2 separate regions of the Homo sapiens genome follow, and region 2 is linked to region 1. Evidence: fine-mapped expression QTL. Tissue or cell type: whole blood. Region 1 holds a variant in brackets; the other region holds the start of a gene. All regions are shown on one strand. Distances are from middle to middle.

What was found.
Region 2: it holds the start of PWWP2B, and the variant in region 1 is fine-mapped to the expression of PWWP2B in whole blood (TOPMed, PIP 0.96).

Annotation. Positions count from the first base shown.
Region 1 is chr10:132,418,046-132,427,640 of GRCh38, reverse strand. No RefSeq gene overlaps it. Among named protein-coding and RNA genes, the nearest start is that of LINC03068, 22 kb to the left of the region's middle. RefSeq lists enhancers at 3,455-3,981, 4,799-5,702, 7,513-8,417, 8,418-9,321 and silencers at 6,160-6,219, 6,250-6,309, 6,340-6,389. The variant C/T (reference allele first, on the strand shown) is at 5,820.
Region 2 is chr10:132,392,693-132,402,287 of GRCh38, reverse strand. It overlaps PWWP2B (PWWP domain containing 2B), which reads right to left and starts at 5,088. Exons shown (of 3, transcript NM_138499.4): 1 at 4,937-5,088. The coding sequence starts at 5,061. LOC124902526 (a long non-coding RNA gene) reads left to right here and starts at 5,732. Exons shown (of 2, transcript XR_007062342.1): 1 at 5,732-7,627; 2 at 7,958-9,473. RefSeq lists enhancers at 745-1,521, 3,508-4,030, 4,031-4,553, 6,124-6,646, 6,647-7,170 and silencers at 4,816-4,955, 4,966-5,075, 5,486-5,915, 5,936-6,315.

The sequences.
Region 1 (9,595 bases):
GATGATGGTGATGGTGACAGTGATAGTGATGGTGATGATAATGATGACAGTGATAGTGATGATGATGATGGTGGTGATTGTGATGACAGTGACAGTGATGGTGTGATGATGATGGTGATGATGGTGATGGTCACAGTGATAGTGATGGTGATGATGATAGTGATGACAGTGATAGTGGTGATGATGATGGTGATTGTGATGACAGTGATAGTGATGGTGTGATGATGGTGATAGTGATGATGATGATGATGGGGATCGTGGCACACCTGAGCTAACCTTTTGGGCCAGCAGCGCCCCCTGCCACTTGCTGGACACCCCAGGCGCCGGCATGCTGGTTGCTCCCCTGCTGTCTCCCAGCTCTCAGGCAGTAACTCTCTCAGTCATGTGAAGACATTGAAATGCAGCCGTCGTGCCTGGCATGCGGTTGGGCATTAATTACATCTCCTTTTGCAAAGCCTAATCAACTTCTCCTAATTAACCTGTTTCCTGTCAATGTGAAATAATTGAATTCACTCGGAATTGGCTGTGCACATAGAGCCATCAGAAGCCTACGTGGCTATTTGTAATGGTGGAGATTTTGCAAACAACATACCTTGTTTTGAAAACACATTTTCAATCCCTGTGGGCATATGTCCCTCTGATGCACAAGCTTTCCGTGCTTTCCTAGAGCAGGGATGCTTCATTCATGGGGTCTGTGAACTTGGACGAGAAAAAGCAACATCTCTATTTTACTAAGCTCTGACTGAAATCTGGCATTTCCTTCCACGAGGAACGCCAGCCATCCCAGGGCTTTATCTCAAATAGAAAACACAGGTGTGTTTGTATCACTTTGCAGTTGTTGCAGGTTTTTCAAACTTGTCCACACTCACCTCCACCTCTAAAACTCAGGGGCTGCTGGACGCTGGGTTTTGTTATCCAGTGCGACGTGTAATGCAGCCACTGCCACCCTCACACATCTGCTTTGTTGATATTTTGACATCTGCTTCACTATGGCTGTTTTCCTTGGTGGCCGTATGTGTTTTTGTCCAAGTAAATCATGAATGGTAGAGCGCAGGGATTTCTAGGGCAGTGAAATGATTCCATACGATACTGTGATGGTGGACACACGGCATCGTGCATTTGTCAAAACTGATGGAACAGCAGCAGTGGTCCCCAACCTTTTTGGCACCAGGGACCAGGGACCAGTTTTATGAAAGACATTTTTCTTATAGACCAGAGGCTGGGGGGGGCGATGATTGGGGATGAAACTGGCCCACCTCAGGTCATCAGGCATTAGATTCTCGTGAGGAGCTCGGAGCCTAGCTCCCTGGCATGGGCAGTTCACAATAGGATTCATGCTCGTATGAGAAGCTAATGCTGCCGCTGATGTGACGGGAGGTGATGCTCAGGTGGTAATGCTTTGCCTGCCCACCTCTCACCTCCTGCTGTGTGGCCTGGTTCCTAACAGGCCCTGGACTGGCACCAGTGCCGATGCAAATGACGGGCATAAGGGCACTGTGGGTGGGGGCTCAGGGAATGCCCTGTGCTACCTGCTCCCTGCTCTGTAAACCAAAAACTGCTCTACAAAATAAAGTCTATTCACTTAAAAAAAAAACTCTTAATTATGAAAAAAATTATCCCCATGCTGTCAAAACGCCCCCTCCCCACAGGAGCAGATGCTCTAGGGACAGCTGGCCCAGGCTCAGGCCAGCTGAGCCCCTTGCCAGCAGGCGTGCAGCCCACGCCTGCCGGAACAGGGGAACAGCATTGGCCTCTGTGTCCTGGAACAGGGTGGGATGCCTGGGGCAGCACAGCCCCCAGATCTATGGCCAGGTACAGCCACCGGCAGTGAACACCTCCGGAGGTGGCCTGCAAGGAAGGAACGGTCACGTCGTTGAAAGTGCAATTCAGCATCCACACGGCACACGCACGCGCACACGTGGGTACACAGCATCCACACGGCACACACACGCGCACGCGTGGGTACACAGCATCCACACGGCACAAGCACGCGCACGCGTGGGTACACAGCATCCACACGGCACACACATGAGCACTCATGGGCACACAGCATCCATATGGCACATGCACACACACACGGGTACACAGCATCCACATGGCACACGCAAGGCACACATGGGCACACAGCATCCACACGGCACACGCACGGGCACACAGCATCCACACGGCACACACACGGGCACACGGCATCCACACGGCACACGCACGTGGACACACGGGCACACGGCATCCACATGGCACACGCACGGGCATGCGGCATCCACACGGCACATGCAAGGCACATGGCATCCACATGGCACACGCACGCGCACACGGCACCCACACGGCACACGCACGGCACACGCACGCGCACGCAGGGGCACACGGCACCCACACGGCACACGCACGCGCAGGCACGGGCACACGGCATCCACACGGCACACGCACGCACACGCATGGGCACCCAGTCGCACATGCGTGTCAGTATCAGCAAGCAGCCCCACTGCAGGACAGGCCCAGTATGCTCCTTTCCCAGTTTTGAGGAGCTGAAATTCTTCCTTAATCTAAATGTTTTCCGTTCGGAACGCACACGTGTTGTGTTTTTTCCACAGTCATTAGATTCAGAGTAATTAAACCAAAACGCTCATTTCTGGAAAGAGACAAAGTATTTTGAGTTTCTACATCAATATTTAACATCTGCCTAACATTTTATATGCTGCCCTGGTGGGTAAAACGATTTCTACTCTCCATAAAGATGGACTCTGCCACAAATCCCTCAAGAAAGAAAGATATTTTCTTGTGAAGAGTCAGCCATAGTGTCTGCCTTACGTAGAGCTTGACAGTTTTTTTTCTTATTTTAAAATCTCAGAGCCAAATTCAGTTCGACAATCAAGCTAAATGATTAGTCGGCTTTAGAGCTGATGTGTGTGAAGTTGGAATTTAGCACATTAAATATTTCAGGGAGAAAGTGCGCAACGTGAGACAGAAAGGCAGAGGCTTCCTCTAGAACTCAGCCTGGAGTGGTTGCAGGAAAATGCGCCAATTAGCAGGGGCTTCGTTCTCGCCAATGTGACAGCTCAGAACATTTGCAATCCATTTTGGAGGATGAGAAAGGAATACTGTGCTCCCCTTCGTGCAAAAACCAAGCCATGCAGAACAAAATTACAGGCCAGGAGGACATGCCAGGGCCTGTATGGACAGTGCTGGATGGTGCAGAACCCACGTGCTGGGTCCCTGTGTGCTCATGCCCATCCAGAGATGCCCTGGGGACACAAACAGGCCCTCAAATGCAGAGGGCCTGTCCAGGGAGCAGGTGAGAGGGAAACGCAAAGACAAGTGGTGCCTCCAGGGTGGCCCAGCTCAAGCCTGCCAGAGCACACCTGCCTCGGCACCGGGGCTTCCGGGACCCCACCACTGAATGCCAGGCCACCCCAGGCAGGGGACAGGCTGCGAGAATGGGCCTCAAGCCCTTGCTGATCTCCTCGCCAGCCACAGTGGGACAAGCTCTGATGGGGCAGCAGGGCCCTACTCACCCCATGGGCAGCCACTGGTTAGAGATACCCCGGCCGCCTGGGTGCCCAAGCCGAGCCTCCCCTGGGGGCCGTGTGCGTCCCATTTGGAGTCCCCACCATGCCCACTGTCCTCTCCACAGCTGCTCTGGTGGGTGGGGTGCTGGCCTACCAGGGTGCAGCAGGGACACCAGGAAGCTCAGCACCTCACTCAGCACCTGCTCTTCAGGCTGAAGCTGGCAGCGGGACCACCTCCACTTGCCTAGGACTGCAGAGCACAACCTGGCACCCTCCTGAAGATGACGCACATGATCATGACCCACAGGACCCAGCGGCTCCACCCCCAGGGGTGAGCCTGAAAGAAGCAAAAACACACAGCCACACACACACACACAGCCACACACACAGCCACACACACACACACAGCCACACACACACAGCCACACACACAGCCACACACACACACAGCCACACAGAGACTGCAGGAAAGCTCACAGCAGCTTTGTGCACAGCAGCCAAAAGGCAGAGACAGCTCACATGTCCACAGACTGACAGATGGACAAACACCATATGTTCACCCACATGGGGAGCATCATTCAGCATAGAAAGGAATGGGGCACAGGCACGCGCCAACACGGGGGCATCGTGAAAGCACTGTGCTCGGCGAAGGAAGCCACACACGACCGCCTGCCAGAACACATGCTACACACAACGGTGTGTCACACACAACCACACATCACACGGAACACGTTACATGCAATGGTGTATCACACACAACCACGTCACACGGACCACATGGAATGCATGTTACAATCATAAATCACACAAACCACATGTCACATGGAACATGTGTTACACACCGTATCTTACACATAACTGCACGTCATACAGAATGTGTGTTACACACAACTGTATCTCACACACAACCGCACATCATACAGAACGCATGTTACACACAATCATATCTCCCACACAACCGCATGTCACATGGATGAAATGGAACGCATGTTACACACAATCATAAATCACACACAACCACATGTCACACAGAACGCAGAACAGGGAAGTCCCCAGAGACGGAAGCAGATGAGGGACTGCTTAGGCCTGGGGAGGAGGGTGATGGCTAAAAGCTGTGGGGTTTCTTTCTGAGGTGAAGCGAATGTTCTAAAAGGGCCCGTGGGGATGTTGCCCATCTATAAACACGCTGAAAGCCATGGACGTGTCCACTGGAAGGGGAGGGATCATATGATATGTGAGCTACGTCTCAAAGAAAGCTGTTTTTTCAAAAAGACTTGTTTCCCGTCTCCCCCGAGGGCTTCCTGGACTCCTGTTGCTTGTCTCTGTCACGAATCCTCACCCCAAAATCATAGGATGAACACCCCAAAGAAATCATGAGAACTCTTCTCTTTGTAGCAAACCACCAAAGGAGAAATTCATGCTTGAAACTGTATCCAAACGGATCAGGGGCCCAAGGGCTGGATGATCTTCACCGCAGCTGGTCTCTGAAAACATGCCTTGTGACCTGCAGTGAGGAGTCCGCATCTGTCTGTGCCACCTGCTGAGACTGTCCTCTCTCGGGCTCCCATGGGGGCTGCGGGCTGGAGCGGGGCCAGGAGGGAGGGGGATGGACGGCTGGGAGGAGGACAGACACCCACACCTCGGTGACAGGTGACAGGCGTTGGCTTGGGCAGAGCCTCGGTGACCTGCCTAGGTTTTCTTCCCCAAAGCAGATCCCAGCTGCGTCTGCACCCAGCAGGCCCCAGAGCCTTCTCCTCCGTGGGGGGGTGGGGGTAAGTCCCCTCCTGCTGGGCTGCCAGGCCTCAGGCAGCCTCGACGCAGCTCTGCACCCAGCTCCCGGCTCCCACAGAGAGCCCTGCAGCTACAGCCGGGGCGGCAGCTTCCAGTGGGCTTCCTGGACCCCTGTCTCCCAGCCACGCCGACCGCAGCCACTATGTGGCTCCTTACAGTCCTCCCCCGGGACCCCTCAGCCCCCACTGGCCTCCGTCTCCCCATCCTGGTGCCCCTCTGCTCTCTGTGGGTCTCCATGGGTCACCCCACTGCCCCGTTCATCTCTCCGTCCTGGCGCCCTCTGCCCTCCGAGGGTCACCCCCGCCGCCCTCTCATCTCTCAGGTCTTGTCCCTGCCTGGCAGCGGGTTGAGCACTGGGCCCACTCCTGGGCCTCCCAGCTCCCTTGGGACCATCTCTCTCACCTCTCCAGCCCCTCCAGCTGTGGACACTGACCCCTGCCTGGCTATGGGGCTCTAGGGCAAGCCCCTCCGGCTCCAGGCCTTCAGCCCCCTCCCCCCAGCCACACCCAGGAAGGAAGGAAG[C/T]CCCCACTGCTCTGCCCCTTGGAGGGTCAGCGACGCCTGCCCGCACAGGGAAGCTCTCCTGCCTCCCTTCGTGGTTGGGGAACTGGCTGCCCTGGGTGAGGCCCTCAGGCCTCACCCGCCTCTCTCTGCGGAGAAAAGGCCCGTGGTAGCAGCAGGCGGGGCTGGGGCTAAAAATAACTCTGCTGGGGCAGAGGCTGGCTGGTGAGGCCGCCTCTGTAGGGTGGGGGCGGGAAGGGAGACCGGCCCTGGGACAGCCTCAGCTGGAGCCCAGGGGCGGTGGCCCCAAAGGCCAAGCAGGAGGCCCACTGACCTGACCTCCCCCCGCAGAGAAGCTGGGCAGGGAGCAGGAAGTCCATCTGGGGTCAGGGCGGTGGGGCCCCCCCAGCTGCAGCCCCCTACTTCCAGCCGGGTATTGATCGGCTTGAAGCTCCTTGGGGCACAAAGGAGCTTAACCCTCCTGAGCAGATGACGGCCACGCTCAGGCCAGGGGCAGGGCCCCATCTGCGTCGGCCTCTCCGGAGTGCACCCTTCCCATGGCTGGGGGTGGGGCTGGGGCCGGGGCCGCAGGGTGCAGGGAGCCCAGCGGGAGAGCCCAGCCCTGCCGCGGCTCCTCCCTCAGTGTCCACGGGGAGATGCCCCTGGCCACAGGCAGCCGTTGGCACCTCAGACCTGGGGCAGGAAGGGGAGGGAGCCCCCGGCCACAGGAAGCCACGGAAGGGTGAGCTGGGCACAGAGTTCCAGGGTGACACAAGGCCAGGTCTGCAGAGCAAACATCTGTTAATGCCCAGAAAACTCACCCGGGAAGAAATACGCAAAAGGCCCACAGGGTGTGAGACTGCGGGAGATTCTAATTTTCTTTTTTTTTTTTGCTTTTCTTTATTTTGCTAATTTTTTCCCCCCACCAACAGGGGTTATTTTATAATCAAAGAAACAGAAAACCCTCGCAGAAAAGGGAAGTGCTGGCTGGGGTCCTGGCCACGGTGCCGTCCAGGCAGGATTTGGAAGGGTCCTGGGCTTTGGAGTCCAGGAACCAGCTGTGGCCCCCCGGGTCTCAGCCTCCCCAGCTGTAATGCAAAGTATGCACCCCCAGTGAGGACTCCTCACCTGCTCTTGCCCCTCCCCAGCCATCCCACCACCACCCAGCAGGGCCTAGGCTGCGGGGCTTGCACTGTGAGAAGCCCAGGCAAGGAGGTGACGCAGAGGCCCTGGCCCAGCCCACACAGCCAGGCCACAGAGCTGGAGCCCAGGGCGACCTAGTCTCTGTCCCCAGAAGGCAGACCAGGACTCCAGCCCCAGGAGCCCCACACAGGCCTTGACTCCCTCTCCTGGACCACGCCAGGGTCCCCCTAGATGGCGGGCAGGGGGTTGTGGGCAGGGCCTCCGGGAGATGGGACCAGCAGAAATGGAGCCACCTGGGGGAGGATCTGCAGCAAGAGGAGGAAGATGAAGAACAAGAGGAAGAGGAAGAAGAGAAAGAAGGCTGGAGAGCAGCACCCCAGGCCACGCCACCCACTGCGTCCAGCCCAGCTCTTCCACGCCAGGCCACGACAACCCCTGCGTCTACCCCAGCGCCCATGCCAGCCCCTGCTTCCAGCTCTGTCTGGGGTGGGTTGGAAGTGTGACCCTCAGAGGTAGGGATTGGGGCTCAGGCTGGGACCAGAGAGTGACAGAAAACAGACCGTGCTCCCTGCACCTGCCACCCCGTGTCCTCCCACACGGCCTGGTCCATGTCGAACACGGTAACAGCTGGCCTCAGCAGAGGAGGGACAGCAGCAGCCCTGGTGGAGACGGGATGCTGGTGACCCTGCGGGGCTGGTGGTGCCAGCAGTGCCTTCCCTGCTCCCGGAGGAGTTGCCCTGGGCCCCCAGCACAGCGGCTACTGGGGTCACAAACGTACCCCAACCCCGAAAGCTCCTTGGAAGGCTAAAGGGCCAGAGCCCTCTCCACGACAAACCCTGGGAAGACAGCCAGGGTTGGCTCTGTTCTGAGCGAGGAAGTCTTGCCAGGTGGGGTGCTTGGGAGGCTGGACCCAGAGCAGGGGAGACCCAGAGCAAGAGAGGCCCAGGACCAGCTCCGGGCAGCCCCGCTGAGGCCCCAAGCCCCCTGCCGCACAACCCACTTTGCACCCAGGACCTCGTACTGACTAGGGTTGGCTCCCCAAGGGCCCCTCCCCCAGGAGACCCCTCCTCCAGGCCCCTCCCCCAGGAGACCCCTCCTCCAGGCCCCCCCCCAGGAGACCCCTCCTCCAGGCCCCTCCCCCAGGAGACCCCTCCTCCAGGCCCCTCCCCCAGGAGACCCCTCCTCCAGGCCCCTCCCCCAGGAGACCCCTCCTCCAGGCCCCCCACCAGGAGACCCCTCCTCCAGACTTCCTCCCCCAGGTGCCTCCTCCCCCAAGGCTCCCCGCCAGGTGCTCCTCCCTCAGGTGTTCCGCTCCCAGGTGTCCCCCTGACCCCCTCTAATAGAGGGACGAAACCCTGGTCCCAGAACAGGGCTTTCCCAGCAGGAATTCTTCCCTCAGTTTAGCCTTCCTGGGGAGCCCATGGGTGGAAGGGCGGGGATTCAGGACCTGGTCCAGCCCAGCCTGACCAGTGGGTACTGGCAGCTGGGGAACCCACCTCCCTGGGCCTCCGCTCCTCACCGGATGAAAGCCCCACCCATGCATCTCAGGGTCTCAGGATTGAAGGGCAAGGGCTGGGGCTGGGCTTGGGGAGGAGCTGCAGGCTGTGGCGTCAGTCCTGGCCTCAGGCTCAAAGGCGGGTCCCGTTGCTGTCACCTGCAGTGGCTGAGCTCTAGTTGCAGGCTGGGCAGCTGGGAGTGAATGTGCCCAGGGCTGCACGCATATTTTGTCCCAGGGGTGAGGCCTGCTCCTTCCATTGGACACACACATTTCTTGAAGCAGTGCCAAGCTTTACGAAGGCCTTCCTTCGTAAAGGGGAGCCAACCCTAGTCAGTAGGAGGTCCTGGGTGCAAAGTGGGGTGTGCGGCAGGGGGAGTCACCCCGAGCAGCAGATCAGGCAGGGGCAGCCCCTGGGCACCGGAGCTCAGAGGGATGAGATGCCCAGCCCCAAGGGCCAGGGCCCTGACTCTGCTGCACCCACGTGGGCAGGGCCGGGGAGGGAGGAGGGGAAGGGGAGCTGCTCTCATTCCTCTCAAGTCCTGGCTCTGCTCTCCTGGGCTCATGCGAGCCCCTCCCTGGATTTTCAAAGGCTTCCCAGGACTCTTGGGCCTGGAGGGCTTCAGGAGGATGAGCCCAGCCCCTCCGGGAGGAAGTGATTCTGGGTGATTTTGTTGGAGAAAAGGGCTCTGCTGCTACAAACCAGTTTGAAAACCATGCCCCTCCTCGCAAGTCAGGTCCAGAACCATAGGAAACCATGAGGGTTGTTCCCTCATGTGCCCTGGAGAGGACCCTCCAGGTGTATGCTGCTGCCCTCCCCCGACCCCTCCCCCGCCAGACGATCCTTGCTGAGGGCAGCGATGCCTTTAGAGCACAGAATGTTCTAGCAAAACCAGGAACAAGCAAAGCCACCATCGTCATCTCTGAGATCTCCCTTGGTTCTGAATGAGCAAATCAAGAAACAAGGGATGAGAGGAGTCACTCCAGGAAACAAAGAACAAAGCTCCCCGCGTGCAGAGCACTGCCTCTCCAGGAAATCCCAGCGTCCACTGGAAAGCCAGCAGGGAGGCCTGGAGATGGGGACTCAGCCCACAGCCCTCCTGGGGCTCAGGGCGGTGACCAGCGTCCCCCCACCTGGAGGCAGCGAGATGCAGCCGGTGGC
Region 2 (9,595 bases), 25 kb after region 1:
GGAACATGGCACCCTGACCACTCGGGGTTGTGGACTGGGCTGAAGGTGCCAGGACCCTGAGGAGGCCCCACAAACGGAGCCAGCCCCATCCCTTGCCCCAGGATCTTCAGCCACAGGCCAGGGGTTAGTCCCTTCCCAGGCAGATCAAATGGGTGGGGGGCAGCCTGAGCTTTGCCATCCCCTTTGGGACCCTGAGTCACACCTGCATCAGTGCCCAGGGACTGGACAAGCCAGCCCTACAAAAACGGCCGGTGACCCTGGCACGTCAGGCAGCCATACTTCCTTCCTGGAGCTGCCGCCCTGCCCAGGCCGCACCCCAGCGCACTGGTGGGTAAACAGGGTGGGAACAGAACAGGGTGGGAACAGCTCACTCCGCAGGCTGGGACGGGTAGGGGAACCCAGCCCTAGGGATCTTGCAAAGCCAACAGCAGAGCCCCCAGGCTGCTGGGACCTCGGCTCCTGCCCTCCTTGAGCAACCCCATGAGATACAGATCACAGTCTTCCCATTTCGCAGATTGGCCAGTGAGGCCGAGCGAGACCAGGGAACGTGCCTCCAGGCTGAGTGGGTGGGTACCCACGGGGGTCTCCAGGCACGGGGACGGCGCTGGCACAGGGAGAACCTCAGTGGCTTATCCTGGACCCTGGGACGTGAAGAGTGGTCCTTCTGGAAGTGCACAGGTGCAGTGTAGTTCCCCACACACCCACCCCCTAGGGACAGGGGCCCCACTGGCCTGGCTGTGACCCACAGGTAACACCGAGCCTTGGCAGGTGGGAAGATGGAGTGGCCCTGGAGCTAGATGGGCCTGCTGGGTCCAGGCTGCCCTTTTAGAGCCATCCGCTGGGCCTTGCCTGTGGGGAAGGGAAGGACATGTGGGGGCCCCATGGGGGCCCTGCCTGTGGGGAAGAGGACATGCGAGGGGCCCCTTGAAATAAGCCTCACGCGACATCCTTGCGAGCTCAGGGACAGAACAAATAACCTTTGCTTTGAGAAAGGGCTAGGGAAACTGAGGCAGGGGTGAGACGCCCTGGAGTCTCTAATTGCAGAACGGACCAGACCCCAAAGCAAAAAGTACGCCAGTGCCACTCCCAATGGCACAGCAGTGTCCTGGCAAGGACACGGGGGCCCTGGAGACCAGGCCTGAGGTCCTCAGCCAGACACAAGTGGCCGAGCCTTAACTCAGCCGTGGCGGCCCTGGGGCCTCGCCTGGATGTCAGGCTCAGCCAAACTCCCAGAAAGGCCCAGGCCTGAGGTCTGCCCGGGACCATGGCCGGGAGGAGCACAGCCCTGGCTGCCTGCCCAAGCCCCCTGCACTCGCTGGCAGCGCCTCCCCACGGCTTCCCCATTCTACAGACCAGGGCCATGAGATGGCAGATGCCCACATGGCAGCCCCCTGCCTGGCCTCCCGGGCCCACATTCACCCTGGACCTTCCTTCCTCACTCTCTGATCAGGAAAGGACACCCTGTTGTGGCCTAAAGAGGTAAAGAAAATGCGGCTCCTGGAACAGGAACAGGCAGCCTCAGCGCAGCGCAGGACAGCCTGAGTCTGGCACCCAAGGCCTCGGCTATGCTCCAGTGTCAGTCTAGAAAGCGTCTGCAGTCTCCCTGTAGCCCTGCAGACACCCACAGCAGGACAGCATGCGGGAAAAGGGCGGGCAGGTCAGGCCTGCTGGGGGCAGTGGGGTCTCCCCAGGCCAACTCTCTCAGGGGTTAGGGAAAAGCAGGCTGGCAGGAGAAGCCACAGGCTAGACACCAGGGGAGCGCCTCCTCCAAGGCCCCACAAGGGGAGCCTGCCTCACCCTGTGGGCACCTGCCCCAGGATCTCCAGGGGAGAGCAGGTGGGGCCAGGTGGCCACGGCCGGCCCCCTGTGTCCTGGACTCAAGGGTTTATGAGCCGTCAGCATAGTCCCTCTCTAAGCCCTGTGGGGCTCCCCAAGTAGCACAAGGCCAGGCCCCCACCCCACACCCTCCTTACCCACTCACTCAGATGCCATCCCCTCGAGACGCTCCGAAGACCAGCCATGCTAGCCAGGCCTCCTGGTGCCCTGGCCTTCAATGCACTAGGCCTGTGTCCCTCTCACTCCCCAAGGGCAGGGGGCACAGCCTATCACCACTGCAGCCCTGGCCCAGGTGCTCCCCCGCTTGGTTGTTGAGTGAATCATCCCAAGAGCAGCCCCCAGCAGTGCAGCCTCCACCTGGACAGGTGAGCCCAGGACAGAGCTCAGGGTGCCCTTCTGCCGGGACAGGCAGTGTCTGGGGTTCTCAGTGTGGGCCAGGGTGTCTGGCCTAGGGTGTGGTTCACAGAGGACAGTCCCCTGACCTTTCCAGCAGTCTGTGTCTGGAACCATAGGCAACCCACAACTGGGGGAGGCCGATAAATACCAGCTCAGAGATGGAGCCAGGAGGCTCTGGTGGGGCAGGCCAGCCCTTCCGCACTCGGAGCCTCGTCTGTCCTCAGGCCACCCCTCAGCCAGGGCCACCCCACCCAAGATCCTCAACCAGAAGCATGTCCCCAAATCACCCACAAAACAACGCAGGTCAGGACAAGGCTTGTGTCATCGATGCTCTGGAAGGAACCACCACCACATTGGCCCAGACTGGGGGAAGATCACTGGAGGCCGCCTGCTCCGGGCTCAGCCCACTTCCTGGCACACAGTAGGTGTGCAGTGAACTCACCCAGATGTACACGCAGGCTGACACTCAAGAGAATCTTGCTTCAGATCACATGGCCCTTGTGGCACAAGCCAGGCAATTCCACCCACCTGCCAAGCCCCTCTCCCCTCTGCTTTGCAAGCAAGGGAGAGAATGCCATCTCCCAAACCGGCCGACAACAAACGCTGGCTGCTGGGCCCACCTCAGCCCTGCATCCCGGCGCCTGTGTGAGCGGGGCCGCCATTCCCGTGGGATTGCTCTGAACAGGTGCCTGGCTGCCCGCCGCCTGCGCTCAACAGCGCCGGTTGTGCTGGGACCCACAGGTTCCCTGAGGTGGGCGGACACCTGTCATAGGGCTCCCAGCAGCTCTTCCCTGTGAGTCAGCACCCACACTTGGGGACTGGGCCTCCACTGTCACATGCAGGGGATAAGGGCGGGCACCACGCCCTGATGAGAAACTGGCACCTGGGGAAGGCAGGTCAGCACCCTGCGGTCCGAGGCAGGGCTGGAAACAGGAGCCCTGGGACTCGGAATACAAGGGCAGAGAACCGGCTGGAGACTCAGGCTCAGGGGAGATGAGGGAGGGGGCGGGGGTCCTTCCAGGACAAGCCTCAGGACTGGGGCTGGGGGAGAGGAGAACAGCCGGACAGACTCAGGCACAGGGGAGATGAGGGAGGGGGCAGGGGTCCTTCCAGGACAAGCCTCAGGACTGGGGGTCGGGGAGCCTGCTCTACCTTCAGATTCCCCACAAGGACAAGGGGGCCAGCCCAAGGCAGCAAGGTTGGCTGCTAAGTGGCTGTGCCCGCAGAGGCCCAGCGCCCGGCTCCGTGGGCGGCTCTGGTTACAGCTGAACGTGGCAGGCAGGGTTGACACCCATGCATCCTACAGCTGCCAGTTCCCACGCCGGGGGTCCCATCGGGCCTGGTTTTTTCCATGAAGGGGAGGCGGTGGTGTAGATTTGCAAACCAGGTTAGCCATGGGCCTCAGGGAGGAGAGCCCGAGGCCACTGCAGATATTCTCAGCCTCCCTTGTCCCGAGTCAAGGAACCTGGGAAATGGGGCAACCCACTGCCGCTCGTGCCCCTCTTCAGGGAGGAAAGGCCAGGCAAGGTGGTGCAGGTCTGGCAGGGGTGCGGCCCTGCTGACCAGGACCAAGCCCAACCCTGCCCGCCAGAGGAAGCTGAGGCCGATGGTGGAGGGGATGGCAGCTCCCAGGTGGCGATTCTCACCCCCCGAGTGTCCCTCCATCCTGCCCGTGCACTCCCAGCGGTAGCCCACACGGAGCGGGCAGGAACCACACGGGAGCCATATGTTAAATCACGTGACTTGTGGATAAATGGCTTCTGGCACATCTAATGAAGAGATAACGTCTGCGAAATAATTGTGGAAGGAACACGGTCCTCTCTGCTAATTCATGTCACCAGGCAAAAATCTGGGCTCCACGGATGGAAAAAGTTGGGCCTTTACAAGAGGAGCCTTTCCCTGCTCCCAGTTTCAAAAGAAAGCCCTGCAGGAGCGCAGCGAGGCCACAGCCTGATTCATGCCTAATCATTGATCTGGCAGCGACAGCTCCCTGCCATGTGACGCGGTGTCCAGGAGGCTCATCTGCACCGCATGGGTCCCTGCAGCCCGTGCACAGGTGCCTCTCAGGAGGAACCGCCCCGCCCTGCCCTGCGCCCCCCACCCAGGAAGCCAGGGCTCCCGGGGGATGTGCCCACGGCTCCCACAGCTTGTACCTCTTCACGCCCCCATGACTCAGGGCTCCCTGGCCTGAAACTGTTCTTAAATCGCACAGCTGGGCGCAACTGCTCTCCCCGAATCCAAACCTCAGCCGCGGAGTCACTCCCAGCAGCCAGGGGCCCGTGGCCTTCGACAGGGCACCCCCACCTGTGAGGAACTGCCAGGGCAAGGCCACGGCGCATCTGACCCTCCCCTGCTTTAACGACAATTCTGCCAACAGTCGAATTCAACAGTGGCTCTGAACAAAGAAAAGTGCATTAATTATGGCAGATGTGTGGAGTTCCGGGACCCCGGCCCCGCGCCCCCCGCCCCGGCCCGCCCCGGCCCGGCGCCCGCCCCGAAAAGTCGCGACGACTTTGAGAACCACTTTTGCCCCCCCGAGTGGCGGCCGCGCTCGCGCGCCCCGAAACTCAGGCTCGGCAGAAACCGAAAGCGGGCGCCGGGGCCACGCCACCCCCAACCCGGAGGCGGGTCCCGGGTCTCCGGGCGGCGGAGGCGGGTGTCGCGTGGGGACCCCGGGGGTGTCCCGGCCCGCGCCCCCGCTCACTTTTTCGTGCAGTCCAGCAGGATCCCCGCGAAGCTCCGCTCGCCGCAGCTCACCGTGACCACCAGCGCGCCGTTGACGACCTGCTCCACCCGCACCGGCAGCCGGCAGCCGGCGCGCGGCTCCATGCTCCCGCCGCGTCCCAGGCCGCCCCCGCCCCGCCGCCGCCGCCGCCGCCGCCGCCGCCGCCGGGTCAGCCCCGCGCGTGACGCCGCCCCGCGGCCGCCTGACGTCACAAAGCTCCGCTGGGGCGGCCGCCACAGCCGAGCCGAGCCGGGCCGGGGGCGCGCGGCCGCGGGCTCCGCTCCCGGGGACCCCGCCCGCCGCCGCCGCGTCCCGGGAGAAGCCGCGCCCGCCCGCAGAGGTCGGCCGGACGCGCGGTGCGGACCCCCGGGCTGGAGAGGGGGCTGCGCCCGGGCTCGCGGCCCACGCTGGCCGGGAGTGTCCCCTGGCTCGGGAGGACCCGAGAGCCACGAGCCCGGGGGCGGCGGGGGGGACACCCGCCGCGGCCGGAGCCCCGGGACCCCATCCCCCCGCTCCCCTGCCTGGGGCCGGTCCCGGGCCCCCCTCCCCCTCCGGGCCCAGCCCTGCGCCCTCCCTCCCTCCCCGGTGGCCCGGATCCTCCCGCCTGGGGTCGGCCGCCCGCGTGTCCCGGCAGCGCCCCGCGCTGGGCTCTGGTGGCCCCGGGCACTGCGGCGAGGAAGTCCCGGGCGGCGCGCGCAGGAAGCCGGGGCAGGCGGAGGGGACGCGGGGCGCCCGGGGGCAGCGGCCTAGTGTCGCCCTCGCCGCGTGGGGGGCGGGACACTGGGTCGCCCCACTGGGCTCGGCGCCTCTCGGGGCGACAAGCGGGCGCGCGCCCGGCTCAGGGCCACCCTGCGCGCCTGGGGGTGGCCGGCACCGGGGCCCGGGGGGTTAACTCCCTCCGGAGGTCTCGGGCGTGTCTCTTCGGGTTGCCGGGCCCAGGGGCCAGGCGCGCCTCCGCCAGTTTACAAAGGAAACAGCCTCCTTCCCCCGCGGCAGGGGCTCCCCGACCCGCGGGCGAGGAGTGGGAGGTGACGGCGCCGGACCCCCTTCCCCCAGGCGCCCGGCTCCCGCGCCTTCAGGCGTCAAAGCCCCCGACTTCCCCGAGCACCAGCACGTCCGCACCCGGCTCAGAACGCAGGGGCCCGGCCTGCTGCGGTGACCTTGGCCCCGGGCCGGGCTTCTGAGCCGGACTTGCAGCGCCTGACGAGGCCTGGAGGCGGGGCGGGGGACCGCGTAGTTGTCCTGGCGACCCAGCGCCGCCGGGCAGGGCTCCTCCCAGCCTGGGAATTGAGGACCACCGCCCCTGGTGCCACTGGGGACCGTCGGGTCGCTGGCGCCTGTCGACCTCGCCCTCCGGCGGCCGCGCGGCAGTGGGAGCCTCAGAGAGGAGCCAGGGCGGAGTGAGGGAGCCCGCGGGGCCTGGGACACCTGACCGTCCGGCTAGAACAGGGGTAGGGACCGAGGCCGAATGAGCCAGAGTTCTGGCCGGGGACAGTCCCAGAGGAGGCCTGGAAGCCCAGTGAGTGTCTGTCCTCCTCTGTGTGGCCTGGGGCTCCCGCCAACACTAAGCCCTTCCTGGGGCCTCAGGCACCTCAAGGCGCCCCGTTCTCCAGGGTCAGCCAGCCCCTGCCCACTGGTTGCCAGGCTTGCAGTGGAGCCTGCCTGCTGTCCTGCCCACAGGCCTCTGCAGCTGCCCCCTCCAGGGGTGGGGCTGACTTTGGAGGAAAAATGCCAGGCAGCAGGGACCCCCTCGCCACCCTGCTCCAGGTTGGGCTGAGCGGCCATCCTGAGGCTGCCCACTTGCTTGGCTCTTCTTCCTGCCTGCTGGAGAGGCCTGCTGGGCACTGCCCTTTCTGAGCATTGGGGACTGCCAGGGTGAATCAGCATTCAGGCTGGTGGGGCCAGCATGGGGTGGGGCTAATGCACAGGGGGCTGTATGTGGGTGGAGGGATCCAGAAAGAGTGTCCAGGGGAGCACCAGCATTCACCAGGGCCCCACCAGGTGGGCAAAAGCAAGGGCTTCCGAGGTGGGGGTGGGGGTGGGCAGGATCCTCTGCAAGGTGTCTGCGTGCGCCTGGGGCTCCTGGTGACTTCCCACGCCAGCAGGAGGAACAGTTTGGGGTGTGCTGAGGGACCCACCTGTGGACTTGCTGGGCTTTGAGAGGAACCAAGGCTGGGTGGCGGCGGGCAGGACAGGGGAAGAGGGTTCCGGGGCACAGAGGGCCAGACAGATGCACCCAGCAGCTGGCAGCTCTGGCTGGAGAGGGGAAGAGGGCAGTGAGAAGCACGGCTGGCCCATGGTACCTCCTGCCCCTCTGCCCTGCCCGCCTTCCCTCTGCCCTGCCCACCTTCCCTCTGCCCTGCCCGCCTTCCCTCTGCCTCTTCCCCTCTGGCCCGTGCTATTTACTGTGTATTGTTAAGTGAACTTGGAAGCCGTTTTTAAAACCTGCTCTCCACTAGGTAAGGTATAAAAAAGACCATCTGCAGACAGGGAGACCATTTTTGCAACTTAAACGGTGGCTGTTCAGGGCCTCCCCCAGCAGCCCTGCCCCCGCACCTGCTCCCACTTGCTTCCCGCCCCGCTCCAACCTGCTTGTTGAAGAAGAGGCCATGGGAGTTTCCAGAGTCCCCGATTAAAGTGCAGGTGTCCTTGGGGACCTCATCAGCCCAGGTATCCCCTCCTGTCTGACCCTGTATTCGGGGGTTGGGAGGCTGTCCTAGGCTTGCTGCTCTGAGCATCTCCCCAGAGGCCACCCTGCTCATGCCAGTCAGTGAGGTCTGCCCAGTTCTGGGAAGCACCCTGGGTACTGGGGCTGGTGCTGCCCACAGTGAGAGGACCCTGAGCTGCCTGGCTGGGCTGGAGAGGAGCCTCGGGAGTACGCCCCTGGCTGGGGTGAAAAGGCCAAGAGTGGGAAGAGACACCTCCGAGGTCTTTAGACTTTGTCTTCAAGAGACTTGATCCAAACAAAAGGTCCTAAAGCCTTTGGTCCTCTGGCTGTAGGCACAGCCGCAGCAAGGCCTAGGACATGCCCAGCTCGGGACGGCCCAGCCAGTCAGATGGGGTAAGCCAAGGGGACAGGAGAGTGTCCGGAACTTCCACCGGGGCTGGGGGTGGGTGACCAGCAGTTGGCAGGATGGGTGGCCTGAAGGGGTACAGTTGAGGGAGGGACAGGTGGCTGGAGGAGGAAGCAGGGGCTGGCCTCTATGTCCCCTGAGACAGCAGGGGAGGAAGGCAGGAACCCCGCAGGCCACCTCCCCTCAGGGTCTGCCTCCCCTGCGGTCCTTGGAGGAACTCCAGGATTTGTCCTCCCTGGCAGCCTGGCTCACTTGCATCACCAGCTCCATGCCCGCCCCTCGTCTTTCAGGGTCGCTCCCCCAGGTCCGAGCTTAGAGGGCCCTCCTGACTGCTGGACCTGGACCTGCCCAGCACTGTCCTACCGCACTACATCATCACTGAGACTTGGGAAGGGCAGTGGTGAGCAGGTTCTCAGCCTTTGTTGGTCTCTTCCACGAGATGAGGCTTACAGCGGCCTCCCCATGACTGAGGTGCAGCCACAGCCTGGCCTGTGTCCAGCCTGCTCCAGAATCACCTGGTATCCCCCCAACCCCCAACACACCTGGGCTTGCTTGATCTTACTGGAGCTCACCAGGGCCTGGCTGTGTGCAAGTCTCATGCAGCATAGTGAGGTGCTCCTGAGATGCATCGAAGGTGTCTGGTCAAGATGGAGGCCTCGCAGGACACAGCCATGAGTCAGAGACCACAGATTTCTCCAGAGCTGGTGCCCAGAGGCCAAAGGCAGGGATGGGCCTTGAGGCTGGGACCCAGGTCGCCTCATGGCAAGCCTTTTGCCCACAGCAGCTGTGGAAGGCAGGAGACAGGATAAAGCCTTTAATACAGAGGGCCTGCTCTGATTTCAGTAAGCAACCATTCATCACTCAAGAAGCCTGGACAGACTAGGGAGCAGGAGCACGCCAGGCCTCCTCCAAGGTGTCTGGCAGGGAGGCCGGCCTGGGGAACACACTCCTTGTCCCTTGTCGTGTCGTCTGAGGCAGGGGCTCAAGGCAATCTTTGCAGATGCTGAGCCAGGAACCCTCGACCTTCTAGCAGGCCACAGATCCTTTGGGCAGTGTTTGTTTTGTTCTGCTCCAGTCTGGAAGCCCTTGGAGGGCAGTGTGGGTCTACAAGGCCAACTTTGTCTTGTCTGTTCTGGAGCTGTCTCCCTGCCCCTTGGGTTATCAGGATGATATAGGGTCACATCCCCTGAGGCAGTATCTCAAAGGACCGGCTGGGAACAGAACCTGCCAAGACTCCACTCGAGGTGGTGCAGAGAGCTGGGCAGGCACATAAACTCTGAGGCCAAACTGCTAGAGTCCTGCCATGTGACCTTGGGGAGACTGCCACCTCCCTTGTGCCTCAGTGTCCTCATCTGTAAAGTGGGAAATATGATGGTACCTACCGTGTAGCCTCGTACTGAATATTAAATGAGTTAATATTAAATGAGATACTTAGTACAGCACAAGCCCCAGTAAAGCTTCCATGAGTTAGCTGCCATCACCATCATCAACACTTTTGTCATTATCAGCATCACCATCACCACCACAGTCTCCACCATCACCGCTACAGCCATCATCACCATGA